3 linked regions of the Homo sapiens genome follow. The protein of the gene in region 1 interacts with the protein of each later gene in a biochemical or structural test. Each region holds a gene or a part of one and is shown on either strand. Other genes may lie near its edges.

The links.
Region 2: the proteins of KDM5C (region 1) and TRIM11 form a complex in vitro, tested with the Homo sapiens proteins (one study listed by BioGRID).
Region 3: of the proteins of KDM5C (region 1) and CNOT4, one has a biochemical effect on the other in vitro, tested with the Homo sapiens proteins (one study listed by BioGRID).

What each region holds. Positions count from the first base shown.
Region 1 is NC_000023.11:53,222,141-53,230,133, forward strand, and holds the start of KDM5C (lysine-specific demethylase 5C), read right to left. Parts: upstream 3,068-7,993; 5' UTR 2,750-3,067; coding exon 2,600-2,749; intron 1-2,599. UniProt on the Homo sapiens protein: Histone demethylase that specifically demethylates 'Lys-4' of histone H3, thereby playing a central role in histone code. Does not demethylate histone H3 'Lys-9', H3 'Lys-27', H3 'Lys-36', H3 'Lys-79' or H4 'Lys-20'.
Region 2 is NC_000001.11:228,396,836-228,403,943, forward strand, and holds part of TRIM11 (E3 ubiquitin-protein ligase TRIM11), read right to left. Parts: intron 5,327-7,108; coding exon 5,231-5,326; intron 4,360-5,230; coding exon 4,129-4,359; intron 331-4,128; coding exon 308-330; intron 275-307; exon of another isoform or gene 213-274; coding exon 112-212; exon of another isoform or gene 1-111.
Region 3 is NC_000007.14:135,361,210-135,367,125, reverse strand, and holds the end of CNOT4 (CCR4-NOT transcription complex subunit 4), read left to right. Parts: intron 1-3,059; coding exon 3,060-3,272; intron 3,273-3,939; coding exon 3,940-4,241; 3' UTR 4,242-5,331; downstream 5,332-5,916. UniProt on the Homo sapiens protein: Has E3 ubiquitin ligase activity, promoting ubiquitination and degradation of target proteins. Involved in activation of the JAK/STAT pathway. Catalyzes ubiquitination of methylated RBM15.

The sequences.
Region 1 (7,993 bases):
CCTTTGCACTACACCAGACATCAATGTTCATACATACATGCATACACGTGGGCGGGGGGGAGAGACAGTGAAAGAGAAGAAAAACTGTTGACCTCTTCTGCACACACACTTTTAGAAAATGGGCTAGAGGACTCATATTTTGCATGCATACACAGACCACACTCCCCTGCCCCTACCAGCCAAAGCAGGTGGCAAACATCTGGGGCTCAGTAAGCAGGGACAAAAAAAAAAAAAAACAGGCAGGCCAAAATGGTATGGCTCAAATCCAGACAAGCTCCCCATGCCCTCTTGCCTCTCATCAGGATAGGGCACTCCCCTCAGCACAGGTAACCCAGCTAAAAAGGTGCTCAAACCCAAAACTCCGGGCACCCTTCTTTCCTGCTGAATCAAGTTCTAGACAATCAGTGCAACATCAAGCACCTGACAGGAAATGGCAGCCCTGGAATGCTACGGCAGGAGCCATGGATGCAACAGATACCTGGGAAGGCCCTGCAAACCGCCTGCCTTCATCTCCAGACTACTGTATGCCAAATGTATGTTGGTATTACTGGGATGTGGTGATAAAAAAAAGGCTGGCTACCTGATGAAGAAAGCAAGATCCTTCCAAACTCCACTGGGTCTACTCAGGGTACCCACACTCTCCTCCCACCCATCTTTCCCAAGCGTAGCAGTCACCTGCCCAGCAATTCAGGCCCCAAACCATCCTTCCTCCAGCAAACCTCCAATTCCCAGGTACCCACCCATATACAGGTTCCCACCCTGGGCCCAAGCATCACTTGAGCGAGTACTTCAAACTTCAACCAGAAGAAGGCCAGCTGCCTAAAGGTGGCCTAGGAGCTGCCATAGAGAAGGAAAAAACAAAACCAAACCAGAGAGCCAGGTATCCTGGATTAGAGAGAAGCACACTGTTGAGCAGTGAAAAGGACGGCCTCCTGCTGGCCATGCACACCTGGGACATGTCACTCTTCCCCTTCCTGATGCCCCAAAGCAGGGTAACAACACCTACACAAGGCCAGCCTGCCTAAGTCAGTCCAAGATAGAAAAAAGGAATTCAGGCCTCAACTACCCCCTACGTCAGCTATGCCTCTTTTTCCCACAGGCTTGCCCAACCACTTCAGGGAGTGCCTCCTTGAGGCTGCCCAGGACTCCTGCCTCTCCCTTCCACTAGCCTTCCTGACCCTCTACCCACTGCCACTCCCTCACCATGGACAAGGATACCTCAGAAATCTGTGGCCAGACTCCAAGAAGGAAGAAATTCGCTTACCCAACACCTCCTAGAGGATCTATCTGAAACCATCCTAGATCTGTGGCTGAGCACCAGAAAGCACCAAGTTGGATAAGGAGGCCTGTGGTGCCCTCCTCAGGTGGGAATGAAGCTTCCTATTCCATTTCAGCCAGGAGACACCCACTCAAAAACACCCTTTTCCAGCAAAGCTCAATTTCTGCCCTTGGAATCCCAACTGATCACTGAACATTATCATCACTTTTCCACCATATCAGCAAGGCAGCAGCTTGCCCTAGCCCTTGGGAGACTTCTAGCCTGAAGCCAGGCCTAGGAGGAAAGCTATGGCCTTTGTTGCTGACCCCTGGCAATCATGTTCCAAAAGGGACAGAATTCCATGGCTCCATTCTGTTCTGCGGGCCCAAGAGTGCCCTATCCTCTGGGATCTCCTACATCCTGGACCAGAGGAGAGTAGAAATCTTCTGAGAAGGACTCACACCCCACCACCAAGCTGACCGGTCCAAACATCTCCATAGGAAGTCAAGTCTGCGGGATGATGTGCAGAAAAGGCCTTGACATTGCCTTCAACGAGGAAAAGAAGAGGACAATTCCCTGAACCCACCTCAAGGGAGACAGAGCAATCCCTGTGAGACTGATTTCCTGACTGGTCCAGCAGGCCAGGATATTATCATAGATGAATTGGCCTGGCAAGGTATGAGTAAATATGAGTCAACCTACATAGGAATAAACCAATGACCACATCAAACACCCTCACAGTCACAATAATTACCACTTATCTAGTGCGTACTACATACAGACGCTACCTAGTTTAATTCAATCCTCTAAATAACCATTTCTGGGATCCATTTCACGGGCTCAGAGAGATTACTTCTACTTTCCCAAGGTCACACAGCTGCTCAGCTTCAAAGTGGAGTTTTGAACTCAAGTCTGTCTCCCTTCAGGACTGCGATCTTTCTATTAATACTATACTATGCTGCCTGCCTTAAAGGAAGTGATGACAACAGATTGGAGAAACGTCTTATTTTTACAGCCTCGACCTAGGTGGCCCGGGCTAAGAGATGTGCGGGGTGCCTCTCTGTGAACTCCCTCCGGCCCACTAGGAATCCCTGTCTTAAACCCGGAGTGATTCTGAAGGGCCGGGGTGGGGGTGGATCTCTGACTCCAGGTCACCTGTGGGCCTCACACCACGAGAGGACCCCTGGCCCAACACCCTTTTTCCGATCCGCGCCGCAACCACAACGGTCCCAGCCACCCCCTCTCCCCACCTCGAGCTGCCCTCCGCCCCAGACTTCGCCGCTGGCTATCCTACTGCTTCATTCCGTCTCGCCGCCGGCGAAAACCGGCCCCGGGGCTTACCGCGGGTGGGCGGATCTTGCAAATGCCCGATTTCTCTGCGATGGGCCTGATTTTCGCGATGTAGCCAAGAGGGTCTCGGAACTCGGCCCAGCTAGGCTCGAACACCGGGCACTCCGGTGGCGGTAGGAAATCGTCGGACCCCGGCTCCATGGTGGGCCCGAGGTCTGGGCCAGGGATCGGGAGGCTTGGACCGCCCTTAAGGACTCATGGCGCCGCCGCTGTTTGAAGCCGAGGCAATGCTCGGAGGCTAGGCCCTAAGCGGGGCAGCCGCCGCCCGCCGAGGGCCTAAGGGGGCGTGTGGCCGTCGTGCTCTGAGAGTCTCAGGCTGACTCTACTGCTACCGCCTCTTCGTCCCGCTCCGTTTCTTCCAAACTGTGTGGTTGCCTCCCCACTACCGCAGCCTTCGCCACCACAGTTACCTCCCAAACGCCGCGGCCTTCAGCGCCGCCGCCGCCATCTTGGTTTGTCAGCGTCTCCCCTCCCCACACCACAACAAACCGGATCCTTCCGCGGGGTGTCCTTCCGAGCCTCGTATACGTTGCGTCACACCAAGCCCTAGGAAACCTTCATATAGTGGAGACCGAGCTAAATAGGCTGGTATGGGTTTCTATTTGGAAGGGGTTACTCAAAAGTACCACCCCGGACTGAGAGAAAATAGTTCATTGCAACGGCGGAGGAACAAGATTGTAATTAGTTTGCCGGATCGTCTTTCCGGATGGACCGGCGGTGCACGTTTAAAGGCCAGTGATGCGCATGCGCGTTATGGAGACCGGAAGAGGAGCTGGTGTCCGTGGGTGGTGGAGTCAAACCGGCACTCCCCCGCAGACCTCAACCAGGTCGCTAGCCCCGCACCAGTGTTCTCTGTCCCTTCTCCCTGGTCTTAACGGTATGGGCCGCGGAAGGCGGCTCTGGGAGCCTGATTGCAAAGGACCCCTTATGCTGGCCCGCGGGATGGGGGGAGATGTACTAGGCTCCAGCTCTAGACACTGACACCTCTGGGGCTTTGAAATAAGGAAGGCAGGAAGCTGCTCACTCCCCGGGGATTATGGATTTTTAGGATTCTGAGTCCCAAGTAAAGGAAGGAAATCTTTATTTCATCCAAGGTTACAGGTAGAGAGATGGGGTTTCGATTCTTACCCCCCAAAAGTCACTGGGAGTCAGCATTTTAATGAACGCTTTCAACTGTTCTGTATTCACTTTTACCATGTACACATTTGTGGCATATACTCCTACAAAATAAGCCTGTGTGTATGTATACTTTAACTATTGGATGTTTAGCAACGGCGTATTTATCCAGTGTCAACTGTGTAAAACACCTGTTTGCCCATTTGTGAGCCTACAGTGCACTTACCAAACATCCGTGTACTTTTATTGTATTTATTGTGTATAGCCCCTGTGCATTTGGTACCAACTGTATGTACATTTAGTCCTATCGTGTGCATGTTCCTTGAGCAGTTTCTGAATAGGTTCATTGCAACTACAGTACTTTGAATGAGTATCATCAAACCAGTACTTTGTACATATACATCAGGCATCTACTGATTGGAGGATCATCTGTGTCATTCATCAGCTGTGGACCTACTGCATATAGTTTGAACACCTACTGTGCAAATATTTGAGTACTTGCGTACATGCTGATTAAGTAATTTTGTTTTCCCCCATCAGACTATGAATTCCTTAAGGGCAGGGACCATGTGGCCTTATACATCCTTAGCACTTGGCATGTTAAGCAGTAAATGAATGTTGAGTAAACAAAAGAAAAATGAATAAATGTCCTTAGTATATATTGACTGAAAAATATGAATACTTTTTGCAAACATTTCCTGTTTAACATATTAAACATCCACTGTAAGCTCGAGGCAGATAGGGAGTGTCATACCTTCGTGCAGTTAACTGTTCCTAATCAGATACTGTGCCAATTAGGTCCATCCTGCCTACTTCAGGACTGAGCTAAGGACATCCTGGCTGAGGGAACAGGGCACACAGGTAGGAAGGAGCTCATGCCCTGGGCTCAAAAGAGTCATGCCTTGCAGTCCCACCAGCTCTGCCATTTTCTAGTTTGTAACCTTGAACAAGTCCCAACTTCTGTAACTGAAATGGGGATAATACATACCTTGCAGAATTGTTGTGTACTTGGCACATAGCAGGCCCTCAGTATCTGGTAGCTGTTATTTTTATTTCTGAGAGTCAACAACCAATATGCCAAAACTCATTAAGAATCTCCTTTGTGTCAGACACTGTGCTAGTGCTTTTGTATTTTTTTTTTTATCACCTGAATCCTTATATTACCTTGAATGTTCAAGATCTTTATCCCCACTTGGCTCGTGTGGAGACTTGTCCCAAGTGACACAGATATTAAGTGACATCTTTCTAGTTTTCTAGGTGTCAGGGGAAACCTCAGCCCCTCTCCACCAGAAACACAGGTGGATGATCCAACTGAACAGCTGTCTGGACAGGAAGCAGGAAAACTAGGCAAAGTGATGCTAATCACAGTAATATCACTAGCCTCTCACATGGATAAGCATCTAATTGCCTACATGGCTAGTTCATACCAATTATTTCCCTTAATCTTTGCAACAGTCTTCAGAAAGATGTAGGTGAATTTACCCAGTCTGTAGATGAGGAACCAAGTTCCAGAAAGATTAAACAACTTGCCCAATGATACACAGGAAGTTGCTGACTCTGGTCAAATGCTCTTCCTGTCGTTTGCCCTCACCAGGAGTGGAGGAGGTGAGGGAAAAGGGAGCTGCTGGGGTGGGAGGTAGAGTGGTGGGGCAGGGCCCAGTCCTTGGCAATATGGGGCATGCAGGGCCTGGAGCTTGGACTGCCCATCGGGCAGCACCCCCAGGCCACCGTGGCTGTGACCGTGATGGTGGTAGTGGTGGTGGTGCGTGGAAGAAACAGATGAAAAGGAGGCAGAGGCCTGGCCAGAGAAGGGTGAGGAGAATCTAGAAGGTGGGAGAATACGGTAGATCTTAGGCCGAAGGAAGTTCAGCCTTTCCATCTAGAGGCTCAAGGAAGTACAAAGAGCATGAATCAGGAATCAGGAGGCCAGATTTTGGGTCTCAGCTCTGCACAGTCTTCCTACAGCCTTCTTTGAGGTCCTTTAGCCCAGACACACCCGTCCTAGAAGATTAAATAGAAATTATGTAGTCTTTGAAGCCAATGAGATAGAATTTATTCGTTTACAAATATTTATTAAATTTCTACTATGCACCAGCAAATTTTCTGGGCACTGGGAATATAATGGTGACCAAGACAGATGTAGTCTCTACTTTCCTGGAGCTGACATGCACCCACTGAGATCTGCCAAGTACCTCATCTTCCTGAGCCTTGATTTTCTCCTTTGTATAATGAAGCTAAATAATCCCTTCCTCACAGTGTTGTTAGGAGGATTAGAGATAATGATGACTGCCATTCATCAAGGGCCAGGTGCTATGAAGTAGGTATTGTTATCCCCATCCTACAGATGAGGAAACTGAAGCTCAGGGAAGTGTAAACTTACTCAAGTCACATGGCTAGTAAGTGGCAGGACCAGAACTCAAACCCAGGTCTGTCTGACTGCCGTACAATTCTGCCTGTAAGAGTCTCAGATGGTGCTCCCCATGTAGTAAGGCATTCAGGAAATGGGTTTGTTCCCCAAGCCATGGGTCTTGCTGGGGGACAACCGGAGTCTAGACGCTGGGGACTTAAGAATTGGGATGCATCAGGAAACTCACTCCAGGCTGGGGGCTGGCTTGGCCTCACCCATCCACCCGGGAGACAGGGTCTGACATGGAGTTGGTGCAGAGCAGTGACTGGAAGGCTCGTCTGGGCTCAAAACCACACGCACCCCATTCATGTTTTGTGGATCAACTGGGCTGACACTGACTTTGTGTCTCACTTTTTTTGGTTTGTAAAATATGATCTCTTCCAGTTCTGAAGTAGGTTTAAGCTGTTGGTTCTGATTCCTAAATAGCTCTAGAATCCATCCCCTCCTCCTTGCCATCTTCCACTCCTCCTGTGAGCCTTTTACTGTCTCTAGCCTGGACTCTTAAAAGAGCCTCCTCAAGGTATCTGTGTGAACTCATGGTTTATTAGACAGAGACAGAGAAATATCGATGTCTAGTATAGAAATATAGATGTATAGTATGTGCTTATACATATACATAACAATAAAATGATTTATCCAAAGTAATGTTAATTCAAAATGAATTATGATAGTAGTGGATTACAACTCACTGGTTAAAATAAAAATCCATGACTCCACATTGATATAAGTAAATAAAGTGAGAGAAAAGGGAAAGTAGAATTCTAAATTATATAGAAGGAATGATGGAGCTAGAAATCATCAATGGATGCTCAAACCTTTGCAAAATAAAAGAGCAAGCTCTTAAAATATTGCTGTAACACCTAGTGCCCAAATCTTGGTTTCTAAATGTCATTCTCTACTAAAAAGAACCGGGGCTCCTTGGAAGGGCTCAGAAAAAGATGGAGATGTGCCACAGGACACAGGGGCTTAGAGGGCTTCCTACTGGCCAAATCTGGGGCTGTGAACATCAAAATAAAGAATGATGTTAATGGGTTATATATAACCCATTGAGTAAAATAAACAATCATTAAGTCCATAAGGATATAAATAAATAAATGTAGAAGGGAAAGCCCTCCCTTATAGTGGAAAGCCAACTAAGACATGCCCAGGCTGGGGGCAGTGGCTCATGCCTATAGTCCCAACACTTTGGGAGGCTGAGGTGGGAGGACTGCTTGAGGCCAGGAGTTTGAAACCAGCCTGGGTAACCTAGCAAGACCTCCATCTCTACAAAAAATTTTTAAATTAGCTGGGCATGGTGGTGTGTGGCTGTGGTCCCAGCTACATGGAAGGCTGAGGTGGGAGGATCGCTTGAATCCAGGAGTTCGAAGCTGCAGTGAGCTATGATCGCACCACTGCACTGGGCAATGGATGAGACCCTGTCTCAAAAAAGAAAAAAAAAAGACATATTGAAAGAATGACGGCATTTGAAAATCACCATTTGACAGCCTCAGCCATAATAATTGTTCCAGCGAACGCTAAAACTAGTGAGTAAAATTTAAGGAGTAACAACATTTCCATTCATGTCTCCACAAGATACTCATCCACTACAACGGGGAAAGTGGTAACTTTACAGTGCAGGTACTAGATAGCCCAATTTGTTATCTGGTCTTACTTTAGCTGCTGCTGAGGCCAGCGTGACAAATCTGTTGGCAACAGAGTAACAGGGAGTGGCTGGGGAGACCCGCCTGTCTCCACGCGGTGCCATGTGCTGTGCCCACCGCTGGAGCTCCAGCTCCCATTCCTTTCTTACGGTGCCACTAACACATTGCATTCTCTCGCATCTCCAGGCCTTTTCATGCGCTGCTCCCTCCCTCCCTTCTCTA
Region 2 (7,108 bases), on another chromosome or scaffold:
CTGTGAGTTTGGAGCTGGCAGTGGCAGGGCACAGAACACGTGGCTGGCTGCCCAGGTCCTTGGCAGGTCCCCTCCTGGAGTCATCTCCCCACCTGGGGCCTCCACACCTACCTCGAAACCTCCGCAGTGTCTCTACCAGTCCCGGGACCCTGCACACGGTCCTCAGCTCCATAGGCACAACTTCTGGGGGCTGCAGCTTCACATCCTGGACCCTAGAGGGGACAACCCAGGTGTTGTCGCCATGGCCAACAGCTGGGTCCCACCCCACTCCCTCCTGCCCCCCCTCCAGGAGAGGCTGGGTTCGTACCTGCGCAGGGCGTCCTTGATGTCCTATGTGGGGAGGAGAAACAGCACACTCGGTGTCAGTGACCATCGCTTGCTCCTGGAGTCCCCTCCCCGCCCCTGGAGCCTCGCCCCGTCCCCCTCTCCTACATTTGAGCGTCAGGCAGCAAAAACACACACAGGGGGCCATAAACCACCCGCAGCAAGGCTCAGACACAGGAATGCTGGACAGAGGCTCTGACATGTGTGCCAGGAGGCATCACCAATGGGGTGCAGCCCAGCCCTGCGGACCAAGGCCCACTTCTGCCTGACACTTGGATGTAGGGCATCTGGCTGTTGGCTCACTCACCCAGAGCCCCAAGTGGGCGCCTCTGGGTGCCAAGGACAGGACAGGCACACATCCCAGCCTTCAGCATAGGGGCACCTCCACCCCAGCTGGAGCCCAACCCTGTGGTTGCACTGCTTCCTCTCCCAGCTCCACCTGCCCTGCAGGCTCCCTGCTCAGCCCCACTCTTGGGCGTGCGTCCTTCCTGTGTCACTGCCTGATACGTGATAGCATCTGACTCCATGTTAGGGCCCGAATTGTGTCCATCCCGCCAAATCCGTATGTTGAAGCCAGAAACTTCAGGACTTCAGAACTTGACTATTAGAAAAAAGGGCTTTTAAAGAGGAAATCATAGTAAAATGAGGCCATTAGGGTGGGCTGCAATCCAAAATAACTTGAGTCTCATAAGAAGGGGCGACTAGGACACAGACACCCACAGAGGGGAGACCCTGTGAGGATACAGGGAAGAAAAGGCATCTACAGGCCCAAGAGATAGGCCTCAGGGGGAACCAGCTTTGACCTCAGTCTTCCAGTGTGCAGGACTGGGAGACAATCAGTCTCTGCTGGGGAAGCCTCCTGGCAGGTGGTACTAAATGTGGCAGCCCGAGCTGGCGTGATACACCCAGGTATTGGAACATCAGCTCTTAGGAGACACGGTCTTGTATCTCTTAGAGCAGTCTTCAGTGCACTGCAAGGATTTAACCCACACTGTCAAATAGACGATCCCACACCATGTTCATTCTAACACACGTGGTGCCAGCTACCAGGCCAGGATGCAGAGGTCAGTAAGACATAATCCCAGACAAGGGTTTCCCTACATGTAGGAGAAATGGCAAAGGAAGATTTCCACACATACGGGTAGTTAATTCTGTCTAGGGGGACAACAACACACTCTAGGCCCCAAAAATTTTTTAAAAAGGAGGCCAGCACTTTGGGAGGCCAAGGCAGGCAGATCACTTGAGTCCAGGAGTTCAAGACCAGCCTGGGCAACACAGCAAGGTCCCATCTCTAAAAAAAAATTTTAAAATTAGCTGAGCTTGGTGGTGTGTGCCTACAGTCCCACCTACTCAGGGGACTGAGATGGAAGGATCGCTTCAGCCCAGGACATCGAGGCTGCAGTCATAATCACATCACTGTACTCTAGCCTGGGCGACAGAGTGAGACCCTGTCTCAATAAATAATTCATAAATAAATAAATAAAGAGGAGACTCTTGGTAGGGTTCTGAAGCCCAAGAAGAATTTGTTGGTAGACACAGGGGGAGTGCGCAGGGTGAGGGAGGGGTGTGCACAGGGCAGGGGCAGATGGTGCTGGTGTGAGCAAGGCAGCTGGGAGCAGCTCCACCTTGGTTATTCTACCTGGGGTGGGCGGCCCACCCCTGGTGTCATTTGGAAACAGGTGGTGGCTGTCACAAGGCCGGGTGCAGGGGCGGCAGGAGAAGGGCTTGGGGGTAGAGGAGAACCTTGGCCTCGACAAGGGGGTTTGGTCTCTGCACAGAACACGGGCCCTCCAGGGGCAGCATTGACTTGAACAAAACCACTCTGCGGCTACAAGCAGGGCCTGCTGAAGGGGGCAGCCAGGACCCCAGAGTCCATAGCAGCCAGGGCCCCAGAGTCCACAGCAGCCAGAGCCCCAGTGGGTGGATTCCTGGGAGTCACTCAAGCCTTTACCTCCACTGTGCAACCCCTGTCCATTCGGCCTGGGTGCTGGGAACCCGGGTTGGGTTCCCCTACCCAACCGGGGGCCAAGGGTGCAAAGCCATCCCCACCTGTCCCTCTCAAACCAGCACACAGCTCACATCAACACAGAGCTGCTGAGGCTGCTCTCCTGCAACCCCCATGTGGGCAGACCCCCACAGCATGCAGGCCATGTGCTGGCAGGTTGGGGGGACAGGAGGGACCTCCCTGAAGCCTTGTAGCCAGGCCAAACCTGGGCAGGGAGCTTGGCCAAGGCATGGACGGGTGGGCCACTCAGCGGGGTGAATGCAGGTGGGTGTATGAGACCCAACACCCACCCACCCGCCCACATGCCACAATGTCTCAGCTGAAAGCCCAAATTGCATCTTCACACAAACCCTGTGGGTCCCCATTTCCAGGTCAACTCACCTTCCTTCTAAACCCTTCCTGGCTTCTCCAACACCTGTCCTCTCTGCCCTCCCTGAGGGCTCCTCCTCAGTCTTCTGGGTACCTCCCCACCCCACAATTTACTGACCACAGGACCCTCTCCTAATATTCCTCAGTCTTTCTACAGACGCTAGCCGAGCGTCCTTCCCGCTTCCCAGGCTCAAAGCCAGCTGATGTCCAAGCTGGTGCACGCGGCACACGGAGTGGAGGAGCAGATGCTGCAGACTTGGAGGTGGGGGAAACTACCTACTGGGTACAGTGTGCACCATTCGGGTGATGGCTACACTCTGACTGCACTTGTACCCCTTAAATCTACAAAAAAAAAAACAAAAAAAAAAAAACAAAAAACAAAAAAACAGAAAAAAGCTTACAATAGAAATGACAATCGAAACCAGGAGCCGGTGCCTGGACTGATGTTCTGCTGGGCTCCAGAGGCCGGCAGCAGGTCACCCCCTGTGCAAAGCCGCCCAGCCACATCTGCAGCATTGTGGGCTCCACCTGGGTCTGGCAGCCCTGCCCCACCAGTGGCTGAATTCACTCACACACGGCCTCTCTCCTCTGTGGGAGCCAGAATTGCCCAGGGGCCCATTTCCCTCTGAATCTTGGGGCCCCTTGAGTCTACACCATGCTGGGCATGGAACACGTTCTCCATTTTGTGGGAAAAACATCCAGCTGAACCCCACGGGAAGATGATAGCAGACACTCCCAGCCCACACGGGGCCTCTCAGCATGGGAGTGCCGTCAGTCCTCATCAGTGCACGCTTGCCAAGCGGAGAGAGCTGACTCCAGGCCCCCTGACCTGCCGCCAGGCCACAGGCCAGGGCGTCCACTGGTTCTGGTTTGGGGGTGCACCAAGGAAAGCCCAGGCCCAGGGGGCCGGCTCAGGGAGTGGAGCCCACACATGGGAAAAGACTCTCCTGGAAGCAGAGGAGGAGGAGACTGCCCCCCATAATGGAGATGCATGGGGTGTGCCAGCGGGGTGAAGACAGAGTGAAGGGCGAGGACTTCCTGCTGGGGACACCATGGCAGGAATCCTATGGGAGGCCCAAGGTGGTCCCAGCGAGCACATGCCCACTCTGCTGTGCCCACAGGGAGCAGCAGTGTCAGTCAGGACGAGATGGAGTGACCTTATGTAATCACTTAAGAAACATCAACTGTTTACATCTACAGAGGAAAATTGATTTTCCCTTTCTCGGCACGTGGGTTTTGGGGGTGGGACATCTGTCCTGCTGCTGACTCAGCATTTCACAGGCAACAGCCAGGCACATCCAGCCATGCCATTCACCTCTCAGCCCAGACAACCTCTCTGCCCCTGCTTCTTGCACTTTCTGGTTCTCCCTCCCCCAGTGTGGCCAGGCCATGCCCGTGTGGCCACCATGGCTGCTCCCCGCCCAGCTCACCTGCAGCAGCCCCAGAGCAGGCAGCTGGCAGCGGCCCTCGAGCTCGGCGATGAGCTCAGCTAGGTGGGCGCTCTGCTGGCCTAGGTGGGCTGCGCCCTCCCGCAGCCGGGGCAGCACCTCCAGCTCCTCCTCCTCCAGCCTCTGCAGCAGCTGCTGCTCCTCCTCTGCCAGCAAACGGCGAAGACGCTCGAACTCACCCAGCACGTTCTGCCGCTGGCTCTCCACCATCTTCTGTGGAGCCCAGGGAGAAGGACAGCTGAGGCCAGACCCCAGGCCCAGCCAGACCCCAAGTTTGGTCAGACCCCAAGCCCACCCAGAGGCCTGGCTGCACCCAACCCCACCCCCGGGGCCTGCTAAAGCCAAAGCACAGCACCAGGTGTGGCAGGACCCCAAACCCACCACCTGGTGCTGGCCAGACCCCAAACCCACCTGTGGCACCTCCCAAACCCCAAATCCACCACTCAGGGAGAGCCAAATCCCATTCTACCACACAGGACTGGCTAGACCCCAAATCTAAACCCAGGGCCGACTAGATCCCAAATCCACTATCTAGTCCCTCCCCAACTTCCAAATCCACCCATTGGCTTGGTAGAACCCTGCATCTACCACCTGGGGCCAGCTGGACTACAAATCTACCACCCAGGGTCCCTCCTGACCTCCAAATTCTCCCCTGGGGCTTCCCAGATCCCAAATCCACCACCCAGAGCCTCCCAGACCCCAAATCTACCCCAGAACTGGACAGATCCCAAATCTACTCCTCAGGATGGCTGAATCCCACATCTATGACCTAGTCCCTCAAAACCTCCAAATTTACCTCCAGGGCCCAGACCCTAAATACACCTGAGAGTTGCCACCCAAGCATGCTGGGACCCCAGGATGGGGCCCTTGCAGTATGGGAGCCCACGCCCACGACCTGGCAGGACAGGTGCACGTGGGAAAGGACCAGCCCTTCAGTGGGCTCGGTGGGGCCAGGCTGAAGCAGTGACTGGTCCTGGGGCGCCAAGGGCAAGTGTGCCTGGCCAGCATCGCCCCCTGGGGTCTCCTATACAGGACCTTCACCCCCTACCCTGCCACCCAGGACCCTGGGAGCCCCAGCACCTGCCTGCCACAAGACGCAGGTCTCATCCGCCTGGGCTTGGAACAGCAACGCATCCTGCATCTGCTTCCGGAGATGCTCCAGTGACTTCTCCAGCTTCGCCTGCGGGAGAGGCCAGGCAGGACCATGAGACATGAGTCCTGTCACAGAAGCCTGCCCTTTTGCACCTGACACCCTGTCCCCTCCTCAAAGACAATGGGGACAAACTGAAATCTGCCTGGTGAATCAGGGAACTCAATGCCCTCCAATAAGCGTGAGCCCTCATGGTAGGTGGGCAGCCTCTTGCCAGAGGCTGACAGCCCCAGCCACATTCTTTCCTTTTTCTCATATGGGGCATTTCTAGTCCTCGACCTTGCTACCCTAGCCCAGGCCTCACCCCCCTTTGCAAAGCTACCTCAAGGGTTCTGGCTGCCCACCCCATCTGTCCCCAAGCTGGCTCTGAAGGTGCTGAGCTCTCCTGTTCCCAAGCCAGTGTCTACTCCTCCTCCTCTTCCTTCTCACCTGCTGGCTCACATAAGGGCCTTGGACCAAGCCTATGCTGGGGTCCAAAAATTCTGCCCTATGCCCCCACAAATTCATAGGTTGAAATCCCAACACCCAGTGTGATGATGTTAGGAGGCGGGGGCTTTGGGAGGTGACTAGGTCAGGAGGGCAGTGCCGCCACAATGGGATTAGTGTTATAAAGGAACCCTCGCCCCTTTCACCATATGACAACACAGTGAGAGGGTGTTGTCTGTGAACCAGGAAGCACCCTCACCAGACACCAAACCTGCCAGGGCTTGATCTTAGACTTCCAGCCTCCAGAGCTGTGAGTCTCCAGCTTGTATACATCTGCCATGTGCAAACCATGGTGTTTTGGTAGGACAGTCAGCACGGACAGACATGCCTGGCTACCCACCCTATCTTTTCTCCAAGCCACTCGGGACCTTGTGCATTTTCAGCTTCATCAGCTATCACTGTAATAAGCTCCAGGATGGGTACACCTCCATTCTGCTTTCTTGGTCCTTAATTCTCATTCCCACGGTTCCTCATGCTGTGCATACCAGGAAGCAGTGAAAATCCTGTACACAAGCTCACTGTACTGTGTGTGCTTGGGGTGCCCTGAACCCACTTCTCGAAGGGTCTGCTCACTTCCACCCCATCTGACACCCTTATCAGCAACGGGCCCTGTGCTGGCCACACCTCTTTGCTTCTCAGCCACCCCAAGTCTTGGCTCTCATCTCTCGCTATCCACGCTCTGGAAGGATGGAGGTGCTGGGAGGGTCCAGAAGTCTGCCCCGGTAGCAGAGCCAGGACTTCAGCCCAGCTGCCTGGCTCCAGGTGCTCACTTTAGTTCACCACTTGGCCTCACGATTCGGGAAGACCGCTGGAGCACCAAGGACATGTCCAACTGCTTTACTGTCTCTGCCTAGGCTCAGCTCTCACGTGAGCTACAAGAACCCCAAATGGCGGTCCCTGTCCCCAGGCCTCTCTCCTCACTGCTGCCGACCTGTTCCAGAAAACTCAGGCCTGGCCCCTGTGACCCCAACCCCACCTCAAACACTTGGCCCAGTGCCTCTCACTTCTCCCTCAATGCCTCAGTCCCTACGGGACATTTTCAGTTTTCTTTTTTTGAGACGGAGTCTCGCTTTGTCCCCCAAGCTGGAGTGCAGTGGCACGATCTCGGCTCACTGCAACCTCTGCCTCCTGTGTTCAAGTGATTCTTCTGCCTCAGCCCCCTGAGTAGCTGGGATTACAGGTGCCCATCACCACACCCAGCTAATTTTTGTATTTTTTGTACAGATGGGATTTCACCATGTTGGCCAGGGTGGTCTCAAACTCCTGACCTCAGGTGATCCGCCCACCTCGGCCTCCCAAATTGCTGGGATTACAGGCGTGAGCCAC
Region 3 (5,916 bases), on another chromosome or scaffold:
CAAAACTGGGGAGTTGGTACCCCTAGCATCTAGTGGGTAGAGGCCGGCAATGCTGCTAAACCTCCCACAGTGCTTAGGACAGCACTCCACAACAGAGAATTATGTAGTTCAAACTGTCAGTGGTGATGAGGTTGATAAACCCTGCTGTATGTGTTTCAAAGAATGGAATTGCCAGAAGCCCTCGCAGCCAAGACAAATTTGGGTCATTGGGAGGGAATAGGGAATCAAGGAGGTGACTTCAGGTATGGCCGGACTGAGATGAGCTATTTTGATGGGATTAGGATTAAGCTGATTTCCTTTCTCTCACCTTTTCTTTGTGCCAGCACTTGGCATAGCAATAGTGGAAAAAACAGTGAAATAAACTTCTTTTCTTCTAAGCTAGATGGAATATGATCCTATTCCAAGAGCTAAAAGCATCATTCTACTTCCCTGTAACACTTGCAGCTTTACTGTAAGCCACATCCATGCTGTCAGGCTCCCAAAATGTCAAGGCACATGATTTTTTGGGGGGAGGAGGGGTGTCAAGATTGTTGCATTATAAACTAGCTAATTTATTTCCCAAGGTATCCTGTAATCATAGTGCACCTGGGAGGATCTAAATTTCTCACTGTTTCTGCATCATGCGCCATATGTGAATTTCTTTGGCTAACATACCCTTGCTTGATTTGATTAGTCTACAATTACAGGAACAAATGTCCCTTAAAACAAACTTTTTTTTAGAGTAGTTTTAGGTTCACAGCAAAACTGAGTGGGAAGTACGGAGAATTGTCATATAACCCCTCTGCCTTTATTGTCTTTTGACTTTATTACTAATTTTCAAATAAGATTTATGTAAATGCAAGTGTTATTCTGTTAATGCAAAATTAAATGTTCCTCAATTTCATTGCTCACTAAATGGTAAAGCAAAAGTTAGGAGCAGATTGTTCTGAGTTATGGGATATTCTCTCTCTCCCTATTCAGTAGAAGAGGGAGGATCATTTGCATGGACTTCTTAGGGACATTAGCCACTCGGTGTAAGATCATTTATCTTCCTGAAAATGTTCCCATGTAGTTATACATCATCTTTTTATTTCTGGGGGATTTTATTTTTCTTATAGGAAGTTTTCCCTGTTTGGCTTTTGCCTAATTGGAAGCTATTTTAAGTTATTCAGCATGACAGTTGGACTGCTTTAAAAGTTAGAGTGTACCATAGCCGTAAACCTTACTGTGATTGAGAGTGTTCTAGGACTTATATTTATGATCTTGTTTGTGTCTCATGTAGTTAGGGAGCCAGGGGGAAACTAGTGATTGTATTCTTGAGCAGAATTTTTTTCTCCTGGCCGCAAAGTCCAGTTTCTTCCTTTAGTCACAATATCTCTCTGCTAATCATGGCCAGTGGACACACTATAATGCTTCTCTGTTTCTCTTTTGCCTCCTTTCAATCATGGGTCTTCCCCTGGGCTTTCCCTTTAATATTTGACCCTTTAAAAAATTAATAGTCTGTACAGAGTAGATCGAGAGAGTAAGCTTGCTTGCTTTTTTTTGGACAGGGTTCAGGTTCAAGTTCTCAATAACAAGTTTTGTGAACTTGGGGAAATTATTCCTGAGTCTGTTTCTTTATCTAGTAAATGCAGATTATCCTTGTCTGCCTGCCTCTCAGGGCTGTTGTGAAGATCACATGAAATAATTGACTATGAGAGTGCCTTGTAAACCATACAACACATACAAATGTAAAATAATATGCAAATATAAGAAATGTGAGGTTTAGTAAATTACATCAATTATGAAATGAAAGTAGGGTTGGAGAATTTATTTTCCCTTCTGTTGTCTTGTTTTGTGTAGCCTAGAGTGCTTTTTCTTCATCTTAATAAGTTCAGAGATGACCTTCGTTCAGTTTAGTTGTAGTATTTTATCTTTTTATAAATAAGGTCAATGGAGTTAAATGCTTCACTTGTTGAAACATGATATAATTTGGCATTGATCAGTGGTTGGTGCAAAGCAAAATTTCAAAAAGAAAATTCTGATTTTGCTAAGCAGCATAGATCGTGCCTGTTAGAACATCCTCCTCCTCCTTCTCAGCGTTGATTGCCAATCAGTTCTGTAGAATCAGAAATATTTTTCTATGCTTTTTTCAAAAACTCCAGTTTGTAATTTGACTTACATTGCTATTTTCAAAAATAAAACAACTATCTAAGTATTTGTTAAACAATTAGGTAGTTGTTATACTTCACCCTTTTCCCCCTGACCAGTTAGTTATACTATGTGGATTCTGGATGGTAGTAGATCAAGTTAGTTTAGTCACAATTTATAAAAAGCCTTTTCTATGTTGCTAGTGTCTTCTCATGTTTGATACTATTCATAAATAGACCCAGAAAACTGTAGGACTCCGGGACTCAGGCTGTGAATGATTGGTAGAACTGTTGGAGTAGAGCAGGCAGACTGTGTTGGAAATTATTCCATCTAGAAGGTATCAGCTCCTGCCTCCTCGGCCTTAGTGACTAAATGGAAATACATTCTTTTCAAATTCAAAAGCCTGTTCATTACTGCTTTTCTCTTCTGAAGCACATTGCCAGTTTTATAATGAAGAAGGACTTAATTATTTTTCTTTTTCTATTGCTTATGTTTATTCTTCATAAAATGACTTTTCTTCCATTTGTGGGCTGAGAAATAAGCTCCTATATTGGACTTTGCAGACTTGGCTTTTTTATAGCGTAAATCAGCTCAGCTGGCTAAATGCCTCACTAAGTGAAACTTCATAATGTAGCTGGAACTAAATTGTGCTCTGGAGCATTGAGTCTTTAAACTGGATTATTGATTTACAAACCCATAATGGTGAAGAGGCTATAGAGAGACAAGAACCTCCCTCTCCTGATCCTTGAGCAAGTTTTTCCTCACTTCAGGGGCTCTGAGCTCACGAGCAAAATCCTAACCAAGTTTATCTTGCTAGGACAACCCATTTTAAATGCTCAATAAAGAAAGAATAATTCTTCTCCCGCTTAACCACTAAAGAACAACATATGTTTCTAACGTAGCTTTTTATTTTTTTTTATCTTTCATTTTTTTGTTGGTAAATCTCCCAGACAACAGCAGTTCTGTAGAGAGTTTAAATATGAAGGAATGGCAGGACGGGCTAAGGGCACTTCTACCCAACATTAACATCAACTTTGGTGGACTGCCCAATTCTTCTTCCCCCTCCAACGCCAACCACAGTGCACCAACGTCCAACACTGCCACCACCGACAGCCTGAGTTGGGACAGCCCTGGCAGCTGGACAGACCCAGCCATCATCACAGGTAACTTTCTCACTCCCTTCAGCTACACTGACTGCCAACAGTTTGGTTTTTAGCACAGATTAAATAAAAACCGAGATCTCTTCAACATAAGCTGCTTTTCACAAAGCCGCAAGTGTGGAGTGGCTTGTTTCGTTCTCAGGGGTCATGCAAGTCTCATTTAACCTGTCGGCCTAGTTGTGTATTAATAAGAAGGCATTTGGTGCCTAGGTTGCTTCTTCTGGTTTAAGTAGGTGTTAACATCTGGCAACATGTGTATTTTGTAGGCCTCAAAGTACAAAAGGATCTGACTTACTCTTCTTATAAGGAACATACTCCACTTTTTGTTATAAAGCTCTCTATTATAAGGCTGTCTTGTTACGCATCCCTGTCAGAGGAGGAAAAGCACAATTGGGAAATGCCATCAGGCAGTTCTGGGGAATGGTGTTTTGCAGCTCTGCCTCTGTGACAGTGGGGGACTAAGTCTAGTTCAAGAGGAGGCATGGGTTTGTGTGCCAATAAGTTCTTTGTTGTTGGGGGAGGATTGGTTTAAAAGGTCTTATTTGGAAGGAGTTTAAAATTGTAATCTCTTCTGTCTTTCCTTTTGGTTTTGCTTTCTAAATTTGTTTGACGACCTTATTCTTTCCACACAAACTCACCATTTTCCCTCTTTTTTCTTTTCTCTCCTTAGGTATTCCAGCGTCTTCAGGAAACAGTTTAGACTCTCTTCAAGATGACAATCCTCCACACTGGCTAAAATCCCTTCAGGCCCTCACAGAGATGGACGGCCCCAGCGCTGCTCCATCACAGACCCACCACAGCGCCCCCTTCAGCACACAGATCCCGCTGCACAGAGCCAGTTGGAATCCCTACCCTCCTCCTTCAAACCCTTCCAGCTTCCACTCCCCACCCCCAGGCTTTCAGACAGCCTTCAGACCCCCCAGCAAAACCCCCACAGATTTACTACAGAGTTCAACACTGGACCGCCATTAGGCAAAGAGGAGCAACCATTAGAAAATGCAGGATTTGTCCCACTCTGTTTTCTCCCTCTCAGCCCACCACCCACAGCTCCCTTCTCATCTCTTATGTTCTGAAGAATCCAGTACCTGATCAATTTTTTTTCTCCCTAACCCCAGATGCAATGCGATCACAGGGTCATTACCATCTCTTTATTAATTGTAAAAATTTTTGTTGATCCAGCATTTGAGTGACACTGTTGAATGTTTCTAAAAATGCCTTTTTAAGGAGAGAAAAAAAAATCAAAGGGCAGTCTCAATACTTAGAAAATTATTGTTTGTCTGTTGCGCATAATAATGACATAATCTGCTTAGCAGAAAATGACGATTAATCTATAGGAAAGCTCAAGTAAATGCATTATCAACTGCAGAAGTTTGAAAACCAGGTTCATTTACGTGAGATTGCTAAATGCATGGGGGAAAGCAGTGGTCCTAGCATCCATCTTGTATTCAGCTTATCATTATTGCAGGGAAAATGCTTTTAATTTAAATTAATTTTTAATTCTTTTGGCAAGTTGATGGCAAGGACTTGATTGTGTCATTAAGCAAAAGAATGTATTGGAAGTTGATGGAAAGACAAATTCATCTGTAGTAGTAACTGGCCGATTGCTAAAGAGTTCATAAGGAGGTGAGAAGTAATTTTTTTAAAGGAGAAAAATTTTTTGGCTTTAGATTTAAAGTAAATTGAAATGTTTTAAAGAAAAAAGTATTCACAGATTTAATACCTATTAATAATATAAGAGCTGAAATGTAAGTCATTTCTTCAGTCCTTCTCCTCTGTCGGAATCTTTTTTGTTTTACCATAAATTCACCTGACGAGGGCACTCTGAGATAGCACTGCTCTGGGGCCATCTGATCACCATCGGGAGCAAATCTCTGACCTCCTTGCCTGCAGCTTTTACTTAACCCTGTAGTTTCTGGACGTTTGTGCAGTATTGAAAAGACAGGAGAAAAGAAAACAGAAACCTGGTTATAACCTGACGCTAAAACTAAAAACAAGGAAATGTACCTCTTTCTTCAGAATTAAAACTAAAATCTTAAATAAAACAGAAAACTTGATGGTGACACTTGGGTTGTCCTTGTTTTTGTTTTTCTGTTTTGTTGGATGTGAGTTTGAAAGGTTTTGTGACAAGTAGCCATCAGATGTTTCCATTTGATTTTACATCTTCAACAGTGGGGAGGGAGGATGGTTTAGAAGAAGAAAGTGGAGGAGAAACAACCATTTTATTGACAGTCAATGGCATCCTTGACGTTCAGCCCATCTTGTCCTCAAGAATCCCTCTTCCAGTGCCTTTCAGTAGAAGATTCCTCTTTCTGCTATTGTATTATGCATGCCAAGCCTTCCCAACTGAGAAGCCTTATGTGCCAGTAATGGAGAGGTTATTGACATGTTGAGATGTTGGTTCTCTTTAGGGAGACCTGGCAGGAGCAGCAGTCACTATGTCACACAAGTGGCATCTCTTTGTGAGTGCCATGATGGGAAAGAGATCGGGAAACACTGATGTAGATGATCCACAGACACATCTTTTATGACTGACCATTTTAGGAAGTACCTGTTGATGGGGCAACGATCGCACCACTGACCAAAAGAGGGTAGAGGATGAAAGTTACCTGTTCCCCAACAGAGCACCAGGATCTGTGTGGTTTGTATG